Linked DNA regions of Homo sapiens. The protein of the gene in region 1 interacts with the protein of each later gene in a pairwise test. Each region holds a gene or a part of one and is shown on either strand. Other genes may lie near its edges.

Region 1 (7,927 bases):
GGGGAGGAAAAAAAAAAAAGAATGTCCAGGAATTCATCACTCGGCAGACACTTGGCCCAGGCTTTATATACAAGATCTCACAATGACAACAATTTCCAGACACTGATGTTTTATGATTTCAAGGGGTGGAACAAAGAATATCAGTGTCTCTGCCCTGGGGATCAACCTGGGAGGCCCCAGGCTGATTCTCAGAGCTGTGGGGTTCGGCACTCACTGGGTCCCAGGTTCCCAGCTGAGCAGTTGTTCCCACAGGTGAGGTCTGAATGCTCACAGCCACCTGGTGGGGCAGACATGCAGATAACTCCATTCTACAGCGGGGGAGACTGAGCCTGGGAGGGAGGGAGGTGCCCACAGTTCAGGTGGCTGATGACCTTAAGGACCTCCAGGGGGCCCCAGCTTCTCACACACTGCATGCACCATGGACCTTGGGAACAAGATCTCAGGCAACAGTAACTCCATGGAAACTTCCTCCCAGGCGGCTTCTGGTATCATCCCCACTTTACAGAGAAGGAAACTGAGGCTGAGAGAAGTGTAGTCTCCAGTTCTGTCTCGCACGTCAGCGGCAGAGCCAGAGCTGGGCCAGCACCTGCCCCGGAGCCGGTGCCCTCCTGATCACCCGGCGATATGGCCTCTTAGGATGCTCCCCACAGCCCCACGGAGCTCAGAGGTCCCTTTCTCAGAGGAGGAAACTGAGGCTGAAAGAGGTTTCGTCAATTCCCGAGGTCACACAGGTGATGAGTGGAAGAACCAGGGGTAAAATTTAAATCTCTTTGGCCCCCGAGCCCCGCTCTTCACCCCCAAGTCTACCTAGGGACCCTAGAAACAGAATGAGGCTGGTCTCCTGCCCTGCTCCCACTGCAGGCCAGGCCTGCAATATGGCTCATCTGGCTGGATCATGGTGACAGCTTATCATTGTCCCCACTTTGCAGAGGAGGCAACCAAGGCCCAGAGAGCCCACATGAGGGGTCCAAGGCCACACAGTGAGAAAAGAACAAGATTTAAACGCAGACTCGGCCGGGTGTGGTGGCTCACGCCTGTAATCCCAGCACTTTGGGAGGCCGAGGCAGGTGGATCACCTGAGGTCAGGAGTTTGAGACCAGCCTGGCTAACAAGGTGAAACCCCATCTCTACTAAAAATACAAAAATAAGCCAGGCATGGTGGTGCACGCCTGTAATCCCAGATACTTGAGAGGCTGAGGCAGGAGAATCGCTTGAACCTGGGAGGTGGAGGTTGCACTGAGCTGAGGTCATGCCACTGCACTCCAGCCTGGGCCACAGAGTGAGACTCCGTCTCAAAAAAAAAAAAAAAAAACCAGACTCATGTGGCTTCATGCCAGCCCTTGGCAAGACCCTCCCAGCTCAGCCACATTCAGGGCCCTCCCTTGTCAGCCACTCCAGCCTCTCTCTGCAGCCTCTGTTGGCTCCTCTGTCCAGCGGGGACAAGGAGCTGGGTGGATGCACCCACTGCCGGCCATGAGACCTGGGGGAAGCTGGGATCCACGGCACAGTTAGAGCCTGAGCAAATCAACTCCGTGATCAACAATGTGATCCCTGAAGCATCCAGAAATTCACACACAGTGGGCAGCCCTGAAGTCGGACCTCACTCTGTGGCAATCACAGCCCTCGCTCGTTCCTTTTGGGAAAACCGCATCACACCTCCTCTCTGTGGCAGTCTGTCTACCTGCTTCTACCCTTCTGCCCTTCATTCATTCATTCATTCCCTGCATATTCACTGAGCACTCACTGTGTGTCTAGGACTGACCCAAGCACTGGGAATACAGCCGAGAGCAAGACAGACAAGGCCTCAGCCCTCCTGACAGGGGCAGACGGGAAACAAGGTGTCAATCAAGAGTTTTGCAGGAGACCGGCTGGGCGCAGAGGCTCATACCCATAATCCCAGCACTTTGGGAGGCTCAGGCGGGCTGATCACTTGAGGTCAGGAGTTCGAGACCAGCCTGGACAACATGGAGAGACCCCCCATCTCTACTAAAAATACAAAAAATAGCTGGGCATGGGGGCACGCGCCTGTAATTCCAGCTACTCAAGAGGCTGAGGTGGATGGACTCCTTGGACCTAGGAGGTAGAGGTTGCAGTGAGTGGAGATCGTGGCACTGCACTCCAGCTTGGGCAACAGAGCAAGACTCCATCTCAAAAACAAACAAAAAAAAACTTTGCAGAAAGAAGATCAGAGAGAGTGACTGTGCTGGAAGCTAAGAGGGCGGGGGCGTGAGGATTCCCCAGTCCCGAAGTAGAGCCTGGGCTGAAAGCCAGAGCCTCTGGGTGCATTGAGGCCCTAAGTGATCAATTCACCAGCACAGTGATCCCCAGTCATCACATTCCTGGCTCTCTCGGGCAGGCCCAAGTCCACCCGGAGTTCTTCCTGTTGCAGCCACAGACCTGGGCTCTCTGCGTATATGTCTGTTCCGTCCCTTGTCTGTCATTCATCCATCCATCTATGCAACACATATTTAGGCAAATCCCAACCACACGCTGGGCACTGGGGAAAAATCAGTGCTCAACAAGGGAGGGAGACAGGCCATTTGTGGATCATCGCGCAAATGAAAATTTCAGGCAGTGCTAAGAGTTTTAAAGAACATCCAACAGAGCGGTATGCTGAGGAGTTGCCTTAGAACCACGGTGAGAAGCCCCCAACCCCGGATGCCGTCAGGGCTTGAGGGGACCCCCTTGCCCACAAGCCACCCTGAATCCTCCCAATGCCCCGAGTGCCATCAGCCAGTCCCTGCTGTCTAACCTTACTCCCTCCTGCTGCAATCACAGCCTAGCCCCGTTTCCACAAATGCCAGGACGGCACCTCTGTTTTGTGTGTGACTATTCAGCAAACATCACCTGCAGAGCACGGCAAACACAGCCACGAATAAGATAAACCCAACTTCTCCCCTCTCTTTTTTCTCCCCTCCTCGGTCCCCTCCGCCTCTCCTGCAGACGCTCACCTTCAGAAAGGAGGGACGGGGCTCTCCCGTGGCCCAGGACCTAGACAGAGCGGCCAGACAGCAGAGGCTGAAGGAAACACATCCCCTCACATGGGGAGATTTTAAGCCTGGGCCGGGAGTGATGTCATTTGTCATGGCCTGGAACTCGGAGGGTAATCCCGGCCAAGGTGGGGGACTCGACTGGGCACCAGGAGGTGACATTGGCTGGGAGGGGGAGGGGCACCCGTCTGCTTAATCCCCTCCTCTTCCCCCCATGACATCTTGGCAATTAGGGCTGATGGGGAAGGGAGGCCCCAGCTCCTGCCGGTGACCATAAGCCCCTACTCCTCAGGGAAGTCCTTCCTTAGGTCTAACTGGTGTCTCTCCAGCTTCAGCTAGTATCCCAAGAGAGAGGCATCAAAGAGGAAGGAGAGCACTGTCAGATGGTCCTGAGAGATCGTCTGAAAAAAGAGAGGCACGGAGCTTTCGGGATCCCTCTCCTGGGTCCCCCTTTCTCTCCACAACAGTCTGTCCGACAGCTAGTTTATCTCTGTAGTGCCTCATTGGTCTCGGTTTCTGCCTCAGTTTCCCCTGTTTCTCTCTCTTTGACTTGGTCAAGTCTTGTCTGTGGCCTCTCTGTCTCTGTGTTGTCAGACATGATATTCTCCTCTTTTTGGGGGCGGAGGTGGCAGGGGCTGCTTCCAGCACTGAAAATAGGCAGACTTATTAGAAAGGGTGTTTTGTTTTTCTGTTTTTGGTGGAGTTTGGGGTTTGGGATTTTTTTCTTTTTTTTTTCCTTTTTTTTTTTTTTGGTTGAGACAGGGTCTCACTCTGTCGCCCAGGCTGGAGTGCAGTGGCATGATCACAGCTCACTGCAGCCTTGACCTCCTGTGCTCAAGGGATCCTCCCTCCTCAGCCTCCCCAGTAGCTGAGACTTTACAGGCACATACCACGATGCCCAGCTAATTTTTTTATTTTCGTAGAGATGGAGTCGCTCTATGTTGCCCAGGCTGGCTTCAAACTCCTGGCCTCAAGCAATCCTCCCACCTCGGCCTCCCAAAGTGCTGGGATTGCAGGCGTGAGCCAACAAACCCAGCACTCACCATCTCTCTACACACCATTGGTCTTTGTCTGGCTTCTCTGTACCTCAGTTTCTTTTCCTGTGGGCCTTAGGCTGTGGCATTTCTGCCTACTTTCCTGAATACCACTCTTTCATTCTCCATCTGCTCCTCTCCGTCCCTGTCTCTGTTGATAAACCTGCATTATCCCCTTGGTCTCTCTTATTCTTTTTCTCTGTGTCTCCCTGTCTATCTTGCTCTTTCTCCCCTCTCCCTCAGCCTCCATGTCCTTCTGTTCCTGTCTGTCTGTCCCTCCCTTTGCTGTCTTTCTGCCTGTCCACCTGTCCCTGTAACTCCAGCCTCATCTCTGTCCCTCTGTCCTCGCTTATCCTCTGCAGCTCCAATCTCTGTTCCTCCTTCTCTTTTTCCCTGTCTCTCTCTCTCTCTCTCTCTCTCTCTGATTCTTGCTTCCCCTCTCCCTGGATTGCCCTTCATTTCTGTTTTGTTTTGTTTTTGTTTGGAGACAGAGTCTTGCTCTGTCACCCAGGCTGGAGTGCAGTGGCACCATCTCGGCTCACTGCAACCTCCACCTCCCCGGTTCAAGCAATTCTCCTGCCTCAGCCTCCCGAGTAGCTGGGAGGATTTCCTTTCATTTCTGTCCTTCTCCCTGTCTTGGTACCTCTGTTGCTCTGTATTTCTGATTTTCCTGGTCTCTGGCCCTCTTTGTGTCTCTCTCCTCTCGTCTGTCTCTCTAGATATTAATATGTCCCTGAGCTCCTGGGTCCCACACGGGTCTGTTTCACTTCCCCGTGCACCCAAACACGCACGCAAGCACACACACACACACACACACACACGCCCGGTAATCCCTCCTTGTGGCTGGGTCATTGTGTCTCAGCCATAAGGGGCCCTTTCTTTCTCCTCCTCCCTCCCCCAAACCCCCTGCTAGGAGAGATTAAGGCTACAGGCCTGGCTGAGGAATCAGGACAGGTCTCATTAGCTTGAAGAGCCAGGGATGACAGCAAGAGAGGGAGGGGCCGTCTGACCCTCGGCGACCAGTCCAGAGGCTCCTGATGGGAGAATCCAGTCCTGGAACAGACCCCCTGGCCCTGCAGCAGGGAAGGAAGGTCAGCTGTACAGGGAGAGGGAGGAGAAAATAACTTCCAGCGGGACAGAGAAGGTGTCAGCAACTCTTAAATCACCTGCCCTGGGGAATCTGGGTACTGGTTGGCTCCTGGATCCAGAGTCCTTCCAGGGGTGGGGGTACAGAGAGGTGGGTTTCAGCTGGTCCTGCACATGGCCCTGGGATCAAGTAAGCTGAAATCAAATCCAAGCACTTCTTCTCTGAGCTAGGTCTTCTGAGGCAACTTGCTTTCCTTCTCATCTCCACCCAGTGGCTCAGGCAGAAATCTGGGCACTCAGCCTGGCCCCTAACCCCTTTCTCCTCACCACTTACATCCAATCCATCCATAAGTCCTGTCATCTCTTCTATCAGATCATTATCCTACTGAAACAATATAAAGCACTGCTGGAAGAAATTAAAGGAGACTCAAGTCAATAGTGAACTATACCATGTTCATGGTTTAGAAGACTCAATGTTATTAAGAGGTCAATTCTTCTCAAACTAATCTTTAGATTTACTGCAATCCCAATCAGAATCTCATCAGGATTTTTCTGTAGAAATTGATTGTCAAACTGATTCTGAAGTTGCTATGGAATATAAATGATCTAGAATAATCAAAGCAGTCTTGGAAAAATAAAACGAGTTGGAGAACTTACGCTACCTGACTTTGAGACTTATTGTAATGCACATGATTGCAGCTGGAAAAAGTGGGGTTAAGGATTAAGAAAATGTGGCACATATACACCATGGAATACTATGCAGCCATAAAAAAGGATGAGTTCATGTCCTATGCAGGGACATGGATGAAGCTGGAAACCATCATTCTGAGCAAACTATCACAAGGACAGAAAACCAAACACCGCATGCTCTCGCTCATAGGTGAGAATTGAACAATGAGAACACTTGGACACAGGGTGGGGAACATCACACACAGGGGCCTGTTGTGGGGTGGGGGGCAGGGGGAGGAATAGCATTAGGAGAAATACCTAATGTAAATGATGAGTTAATGGGTGCAGCAAACCAACATGGCACATGTATCCATATGTAACAAACCTGCACGTTGTGCACATGTACCCTAGAACTTAAAGTATAATAAACAAAAAAAGTGGGGTTAAATTCTGGGGACAGTCTGAAGATGTATGGAATACTGGAGGATCCTTGGATCAGGTTGTTGATGAGTTTCACTCCAGGCTCTACTGCAGGATGGGGGTGCTCCTCATACCTGCACCCCCTTAGCTCCCTAACACATTCATCCTATTTAATCTTTTGCAAAACTCTTACTGACATCTTGTTTCTTGTCTGCCCTTGTCAGGAGGATGGGGCCCTGTCTGTCTTGTTCTCAGCTGTATTCCCAGTACCTAGGACTGTCCCAGACACACAGCAGTAAGTGTGTGTTCAATAAATGTGAAAGAAATGGATGGATGGATGGACGGAGGGATGGATGGATGGATGGATGGATGGAGGGATGGATGGGTGATGGATGATGGATGGATGGATGGATGGATGGATGATGGATGGATGGATGGATGGATGGATGGGTGATGGATGGGTGGATGGATGGATGGATGGGTGATGGATGGATGGATGGATGGATGGATGGATGGGTGATGGATGGGTGGATGGATGGATGGATGGATGGGTGATGGATGGATGGATGGATGGATGGTGGGGCAGAACCAGGTAGAGACACTGGCACAGAGAAGTGGTGTGATGTTTTCCCAAAAGGACCAAGGGTCTGTGATTGCAGCACTGTGAGGTCAGACTGTGGGGCTGCCCACTAGTGTTTGAATCTCTGGATGCTTCAGGGATCATATTGTTCCTGAGTTAATTCATTCAGGCTCTAACTGTGCCATGAATCCCTGCTTCTACCAGGTCCCATGCCTGGTAGTGGGTGCATCCACTCAGCTCCTTGTCCTCACTGGACAGAGGAGCCTACGGATGCGGCAGAGAGAGGCTGGCAGGGCCAACAAGGGAGGGCCCTGAACATGGCTGAGTCGGGAGGGTCTTGCCAAGAGCTGGCATGGAGCCACATGAGTTTGGGTTTAAATCCTGTTGTTTTCTCACTGCGTGGCCTTGGGCCCTTCATATGGGCTCCTGGGCCTCAGTTTCCTCCTCTGCAAAGTGGATACAGTGACAAGCTGTCACAATGAGCCCTGGGAATCCCATGGGAGCAGGGGAGGAAGCTGACCTCATCCATCTTCTAGGAATCCCAGGCAGACTCGGGGGTGAAGAGCGGGGCTCGGGGGCCAAAGAGATTTAAATTCTACCCCTGGTTCTTCCACTCATCACCTGTGTGACCTCGGAAATTGACGAAACCTCTCTCAGCCTCAGTTTCCTCCTCTGAGAAAGGGACCTCTGAGCTCCGTGGGGCTGTGGCGAGCATCCTAAGAGGCCATATCACCTGGTGATCAGGAGGGCACAGGCTCCGGGGCAGGTGCTGGCCCAGCTCTGGCTCTGCCGCTGACGTGGGAGACAGAACTGGAGACTACACTTCTCTCAGCCTCAGTTTCCTCCTCTGTAAAGTGGGGATGATACCAGAAGCCGCCTGGGAGGAAGTTTCCATGGAGTTATTGTTCCCTGAGATCTTGTTCCCAAGGTCTGTGGTTCATGCAGTGTGTGAGAAGCTGGGACCTGTGGGCACCTCCCTCCTTCCCAGGCTCAGTCTCCCTGCCTGTAGAATGGAGTTATCTGTGTGTCTGCACCACAAGGTGGCTGTGAGCATTCAGGCCTTACCTGTGAGAACAACTGCTCAGGTGGGAACCTGGGACCCAGTGGGTGCCGAACTCCACAGCTCTGAGAACTAGCCTTGGGCCTCC
Region 2 (7,025 bases), on another chromosome or scaffold:
GCAGTGTCCACTATAGGACCCCCTCACATAGGGCATGTGGGAGAAGCCAGGCACCCTGGGCTTGAGACAGAGTCATGCCCAGCTCTCATGTCCTTTCCTGGGATAATGGATGAAGGTACGTGTGTGTGCATGTGTGTGCAGGAGGGAGGACTAGGGAATAGTTTGGGACCCCAGGGCTTCTATCTTCCCCCAGTTGGTCTCTCCAACACCACATATCGGCCTCTACTCCAGTGTGAAGAAAGGCACCAAGCACAGGAGGACTCGGACCTGAGCCTTTCCTTATTGTTAGCACTTTATTTGAGTAGAAGACACCTCTACTGTGTCAAAACTAGTACTTGGAGCTCTTGGATTTGCTGTTTTCTCCATATTTCTCTTCCAGTGCTTTCTGCAAGTTCAGGTTCATAGCATTTTTCTGGTGCCACCGCCCTACAGCGAGCAGGAGAAGAGCCAGCACAGATTAGATCATCTGGCAGTCTCTGGAGTTGCCCAGACCCCAGGGATGACTCGTACCTCTTCCAAGTCCACCCCGGCTCTGTCTCCTGCTCTGGTTTCTCTCTGACCCTTAGAGCCAACACACCCTGCTGGTGGAGGACAGTCCCTGCCTCCCATCACCCGCAGCTCCTCACTTACCCAGATCATCCGTCTTCCTGCCATGCCAGTGTTCTAAGTCCCTCACTGATTTCTCAATGACCTCTGGTGTGTAAGAAGCCTTCATGAGGCTCTTTGTCTCCTCAGCAGCCCCTGTAGAATACCATGAAGAAACCCCAAGTGCCCAATTCAGTGGCAGTCGGGTACTCCATGGCTTATATTGGGTGTCAGTTTCCTCTACGGATGGTAAATTGTGGAACGGAAGGAGAGTGGGAAGGGTTTCAAAGTAAAGTCGTTTGGGTTCAAACCCAGACTCCATTATTTATGGGTAGTATAGCCTCAGAGAAATTTTTAACCTCTCTGAGCTTCAGTGTCTTCAACTATACCAAGAAATGAGATTTTTTTGCATGGTTGGAAAGACAAAATTATTGGACATTCATCAAGACATCTAGCAAGTGGCAACTAATACCTGTAACTTAGGAAAACTTATCTCTGTTTTCAAAATTCAAACATGCACAAGCAGATACGTTGCAATGATCAAGAGTCAGCAGAAACACCAAAGGACAAAATCTCCCAAATTAGCAAAGATTTGAATGATCAGATACAGAATACAAAATAAGTATATTTAGGCCGGGGGCAGTGGCTCACGCCTGTAATCCCAGCACTTTGGGAGGCCAAGGCGGGTGGATCACGAGGTCAGGGGTTCGAGACCAGCCTGACCAACATGGTGAAACCCCGTCTCTACTAAAAATACAAAAATTAGCTGGGCGTGGTGGCGGGCTCCTGTAATCCCAGCTACTCAGGAGGCTGAGGTAGGAGAATTGCTTGAACCCGGGAGGCGGAGGTTGCAGTGAGCCGAGATCGTGCCACTGCAGTCCAGCCTGGGCAACAGAGAGAGACTCTGTCTCAAACAAACAAACAAACAAACAAAAAACCTATATTTAATGATTGAAACCATAAGAGAGAATAAAAATATAAGCAAAGAGTAAGAAACCATCCAGAAAGAGCAGATAGATTAGTAAGAGAAGCAAACGGAATTTCAGAAATGAAACACATAATAATTGAAAAAAAATTAAACTCCATGGCAATAAGATGCCTGGGACTTGCTTTGAAATAATCTTGGGTGGGAGTGGATGGGTGGGAGAAAAGATGAGACAAGATCGGCTATGTATTAATCATTGTTGAGGCTGAGTGGTATATGCAACATCTATTTATAAACTAAGTTCTCTTCTTTTCCATAAGCTTGAAAATTGCCATCATAAAAGTTTAAAAAGAAATTCAATTAACAGATAAAATAGCAGATCAAATAAAGCTGAGAGAAAATGGTAAACTGGAAGATATACCTAAAGAAATTAATATTAGGATGCAATACAAAGAAATAAAAAGATGTGGGCTGGGCGCGGTGGCTCACGCCTGTAATCCCAGCACTTTGGGAGGCCGAGAATATATATATAAATTCTATATATACATATATCTAAATCCTATATATAATACATATATAAATTCTATAAAATAATAACATGTAAGCTGAGGTGGAGGTCGGGAGAGTAATTAAAGTTAATTAAAGTTTTTTTTTTCTTTTTTTTTTTTTTGAGACGGAGTCTCGCTCTGTCTCCAGGCTGGAGTGCTGTGGCTCAATCTTGGCTCACTGCAACCTCCATCTCCCAGGTTCAATCTACTCTCCTGCCTCAGCCTCCTGAGTAGCTGGGATTACAGGCATGCGCCACCACACCCAGCTAATTTTTGTATTTTTAGTAGAGACGGGGTTTCACCATGTTAGCCAGGATGGTCTGGATCTCTTGACCTTGTGATCCGCCCATCTCGGCCTCCCAAAGTGCTGGGGTTACAGGTGTGAGCCACGGCGCCCAGCCAAAGTTAAAGCCTTCTAAGGCCCTTAGTGTTCAGGAAAACACAAATGCCTAGATTAACTTTATAATTTGTTAATTACGCATATAAAAATGTCAAAGGTAACCACTCAAAGAATAAGAGGAGTAGAAAAGAACAAATATCAGATTGAGAAAAATAAGAAAGCTGATGTAAATCCAAAAAGAGAGAGAAAAAGAAGCCACAAAGAAAAAGCAGCACACCATCCTGGCTAACACGGTGAAACCCCGTCTCTACTAAAAATACAAAAAAAAAAATTAGCCGGGCGTTGTGGCAGGCGCCTGTAGTCTCAGCTACTTGGGAGGCTGAGGCAGGAGAATGGCGTGAACCCAGGAGGCGGAGCTTGCAGTGAGCTGAGAGCGCGCCACTGCACTCCAGCCTGGGCAACAGAGTGAGACTCCATCTCAAAAAAAAAGAAAAGAAAAGAAAAGAAAAAGCAGCACAAATAGAAAACGAAAAATAAGATCATGGAAATAAACCCAAATAGTCTATATCAGTAACGAGAATCAATATGAACGAATTAAACCCATTCGTTAAAAACCAGATGATGACACTACAGAAAATGTTTTCCAGGTATGTATCATTGAAGGCATATTTAAAAGGACACAAAGAGAGGATAAACATGGAAGAACAGAAAAAGATATACCCAGGCAAACACTAACCAAAAGCAGTCTGGTCTAACTATATCAGGTGAAATAGACTGTAGGGCAACGGCACGATGAAAAACAAAAACAATTGCAATTCATTAAGGTAATGTAATGATTCTGAACTTGCTACATTGAAATAATCTCAAAATAGATAAGGCAAAATTGACAGAACCACAGGACAAATGGACAAAGCTGCTATTATAGAGGGAGATTTAAAGACACATATTTTAGTAACTAATAGATCAAGCAAAGCATATTAATAAGGATTAGAAGATTTGTGCAGAAATTATTAACAAGCCTGTTCTATAGACAAATGCAGAATCCCTTACCCAAGAGATTGTTATTATTATTATTATTATCATTATTTTGAGAGGGAGTCTTGCTCTGTCACCAGGCTGGAGTGCAGTGGCGCGATCTCCGCTCACTATAACCTCCGCCTACCTCCGCCTCCCGGGTTCAAGCGATTCTTCTGCCTCAGCCTCCTGAGAAGCCATTACAGGCGTGCGCCATCACGCCTAGCTAATTTTTGTATTTTTAGTAGAGACATGCGCCATCATGCCAGCTAATTTTTGTATTTTTAGTAGATATAGGGTTTCACCATATTGGCCAGGATGATCTCGATCTCTTGACCTTGTGATCTGCCTGGCTCCGCCTCCTGAGATTTTTTTTTTTTTTTTTTTGAGATGGAGTCTTGCTCTGTCACCAGGCTGGTGTGCAGTGGCGCAATCTCGGCTCACTGCAAGCTCCGCTTCCCGGGTTCACGCCATTCTCCTGCCTCAGCCTCCCGAGTAGCTGGGACTACAGGCGCCCGCCACCGCGCCCGGCTAATTTTTTGTATTTTTAGTAGAGACGGGGTTTCACCTTGTTAGCCAGGATGGTCTCGATCTCCTGACCTCATGATCCACCCGCCTCGGCCTCCCAAAGTGCTGGGATTACAGGCGTGAGCCACTGCGCCCGGCCTGGAGAGATTATTCTTAAGCACACACAGATCATCTACAAAAATCACCATCTACTGGGCTCTAAAGCAAATCTGAACAATTTCAAAGGATTGAAATCATTACAGGGCTGTGTTCTCCAATGACAGTCACATCAAGCTGGGAGATGGAATCCACCCCAAAGACAAGAGAGCAAACCAAGAAAGAGGAAGACACCAAATAGAGGAAATCAGAATTCCAACAATGGAAAGAAGTGAAAAAAAGAAAATCCTTGGTAAGCTGGTTCAGGGATCCCTGGATACCTGGACACAGAGGGAAAAGGACAGGACGTAAGCTACCATTCTGCCTGCTCTGTGACTCAAAGACACAATGTCCAGGTGAGCCCAGCCAAGGTTTTGATTTGTATGTGGCTTGTCCTTACCATGGGCTGACCCTCTACTCTCCCCTCCCAGCCCTGCTGCATGGAGCAGATGAGGACCTTCATGTTAGCCCACAGGGGTGTTCTGCTCTGACCTCCTTCTGAAGCTGGAGCCACGGTGAGTTGGGAGGCAGAAAATACACAAAGGGCCACTCACCGTGGCCATATTCCTGCAGGCCATCCCACATGGTTCCCCCGCAGCCCTGTCTGTGGGAAGCCTATACACCCAGGACTCACGGCCATGCCAATACTCTCCCCACATGAAGTTCACCAAACTCTCAGGACACCCAAAGCCAGACTAAGACCCAGAGCCAGCTCCATTTTCCCCCATGCTGTTTCCATGGTAGTGAATAAATTTCATGAGATCTGATGGCTTTATAAGGGGAAACTTCTTTCACTTGGTTCCCATTCTCTCTTGTCGGCCACCGTGTAAGACGTGCCTTTCACCTTCCACCATGATGTGAGGCCTCCCCAGCTACATGGAACTGTGAGTCTATTAAACCTCTTTTTCTTTATAAATTACCCAGTCTCAGGTATGTTTTTATCAGCAGTATGAAAACAGACTATATTATATTTAATGATGTAATGTTAGAATCAAGAAGGAGATAAGGATGCCTGTTTTTCCTGCTTATAGACACCATTGTCCTAGAGAGGTCAGCCAGATGCTGATATAAAGGTAAGAAAAGCCTAGTGTTTAGGAATTTAAACTCTAGCCTCTGACTGGCAGGGTTTAAATCCCAATTCTGACCGTCCCTATCTGTGTGGCCTTAATTAAGTTATTTAACTTTTCCATGACTCAATTATTTTTTATCTGGAAAAAAAAATGGGAATTGTAGCATTTACCACATGGGATTCATGTGCAGAATAAAATATATATATAAAGTACTCAGAGCAGTACCTGGCATATGTTAAATACTATGCATAAATGTAGCCATTATTACTATTCAAAAGCACTCCTAAAGAATCAATAACTAATTACTGGAATTAATTGGTGAGCTGCATAAAGCTTCTGGATACGAGATTAATATACAAAAACAAAAATTGCATTTGTGTATACGGTATCAGCAGCAAAGTTAGAAAATATAATTTTAAAAAGATATCATTTTCAACAGCAGCAAAAAAAGAGATTCTCCTGAGTAAGTCTAACAAAAAAACCTGCATGATGTTTATAGAAAAAAAAAAATCACAAAATGTTACTGAGAGATATCGAAGGAAGACTTAAATTAATGGAGGTATATACCATATTCATATATTAGAAAATTCATTATAAAGCTGACAACAGCCCTTAAATTGAGCTGTAGATTCAATGTATTTCCAATCAAAATCCCAACAGGGTTTTTCATGGAAATTTCTGTTTATTAATAACATTTGTATGGGAGAGTAAAGGGCCTAGAAACCCAAGACATTAACTGGTGATGGTGGTGGAGGGGTGGTAGTGGGAGTATTGCCTGACCAGATATCAGGCTACTTATAATACTTTGGTGATTAAAAATGTAATATTAGACCAATGGACAGAATAGAGCCTGAAACTGATCTATGCATGTGTCAAAACCTGATGGATAACAGAAGTACCACTGCAGGTCACCGGGAGGAAAGATGAGCCTATTCAATAAAAGGTACTGAGGCAGTCAGTAACCCACATAAAGAAGGAATTGAAAATGAATCCCTACTGGGGAAAGATTTCTGGTGTTGTTGTTCCATTATTTTGAGGGCTGGGCACACAGATGCCCAAGGAATGCCTGAGCTCGTCATCTCACTCTTTATACAGCTGGGCAAGCTGCCTAAAGTTTCCTCAAGCCTCAGTTTTACTACTTTCTTAAATGGCTAAAACTCACAAAAGCCATCTACAGTTTTTGAAAATGAATCCCTACTTCATACTAAAAACAAAAATCAACCCCAGGTGGATTAAAGAGTTAAATGTGAAAAGCAAAACTAAAAATTTTAGAAGACTGTGTAAAAGATGATCTACGATTTAGCATAGGATAGGAGTCCCTCAACCTGCTCCCCCTGGCAGCTTCTCTAATTCAGTAAATAGCCATCTCATCCTTCCAGTTGTTCAGGTCAAAACGTTGAAGTCAACGTTAATTCCTCTCTCACCCCAAAATCTATTCATTAGCATATTCTTTTCTCTCTGCCTTATACAAATATCCAGAATCCTACTACATCAGGCCACCTTCACCATTACCTCCCTGAGCTGCTATATTGCACAATGGTGCCTTCCAAAATAGCGCAGGTGCACTAGCCCAGCTTCCAACACCAAGCCACCATCATCTGTCCCATCTGGAGTTTTGCAGCTGCCTCCTACCAGTTTCCCTGTTTCTGCCCCATCTCCCTATGTCCATTCTCCCCATAGCAACTGGAGTGAGCCCTTAACCTGAGCCAAACAGGGCCATTCTCCTGCTTAAAATCCCGGCTTGGTTTCTCATCTCACTCCGAGTAAAGACCTTCCAGCAGGCTTCACGACCCAGCCTGTTTCCTCTGATGTCTTCTGCCTCACTCCTGTGCAGCCATACCAGCCTCACCAACCTCAAACAGCAAGTATAAAGGCTAACC

Evidence for each region. The genes of interacting proteins can lie anywhere in the genome.
Region 2: the proteins of CRX (region 1) and CIMIP4 interact in binary tests that used the Homo sapiens proteins (3 or more experiments, as listed by UniProt).

The regions. Positions count from the first base shown.
Region 1 is NC_000019.10:47,817,035-47,824,961, reverse strand, and holds the start of CRX (cone-rod homeobox protein), read right to left. Parts: upstream 3,026-7,927; 5' UTR 2,952-3,025; intron 1-2,951. Other genes in the region: TPRX1 (tetra-peptide repeat homeobox protein 1), read left to right, coding at 5,911-5,990, 6,424-6,494. UniProt on the Homo sapiens protein: Transcription factor that binds and transactivates the sequence 5'-TAATC[CA]-3' which is found upstream of several photoreceptor-specific genes, including the opsin genes.
Region 2 is NC_000022.11:36,990,851-36,997,875, forward strand, and holds the end of CIMIP4 (ciliary microtubule inner protein 4), read right to left. Parts: intron 742-7,025; coding exon 631-741; intron 427-630; coding exon 329-426; 3' UTR 275-328; downstream 1-274.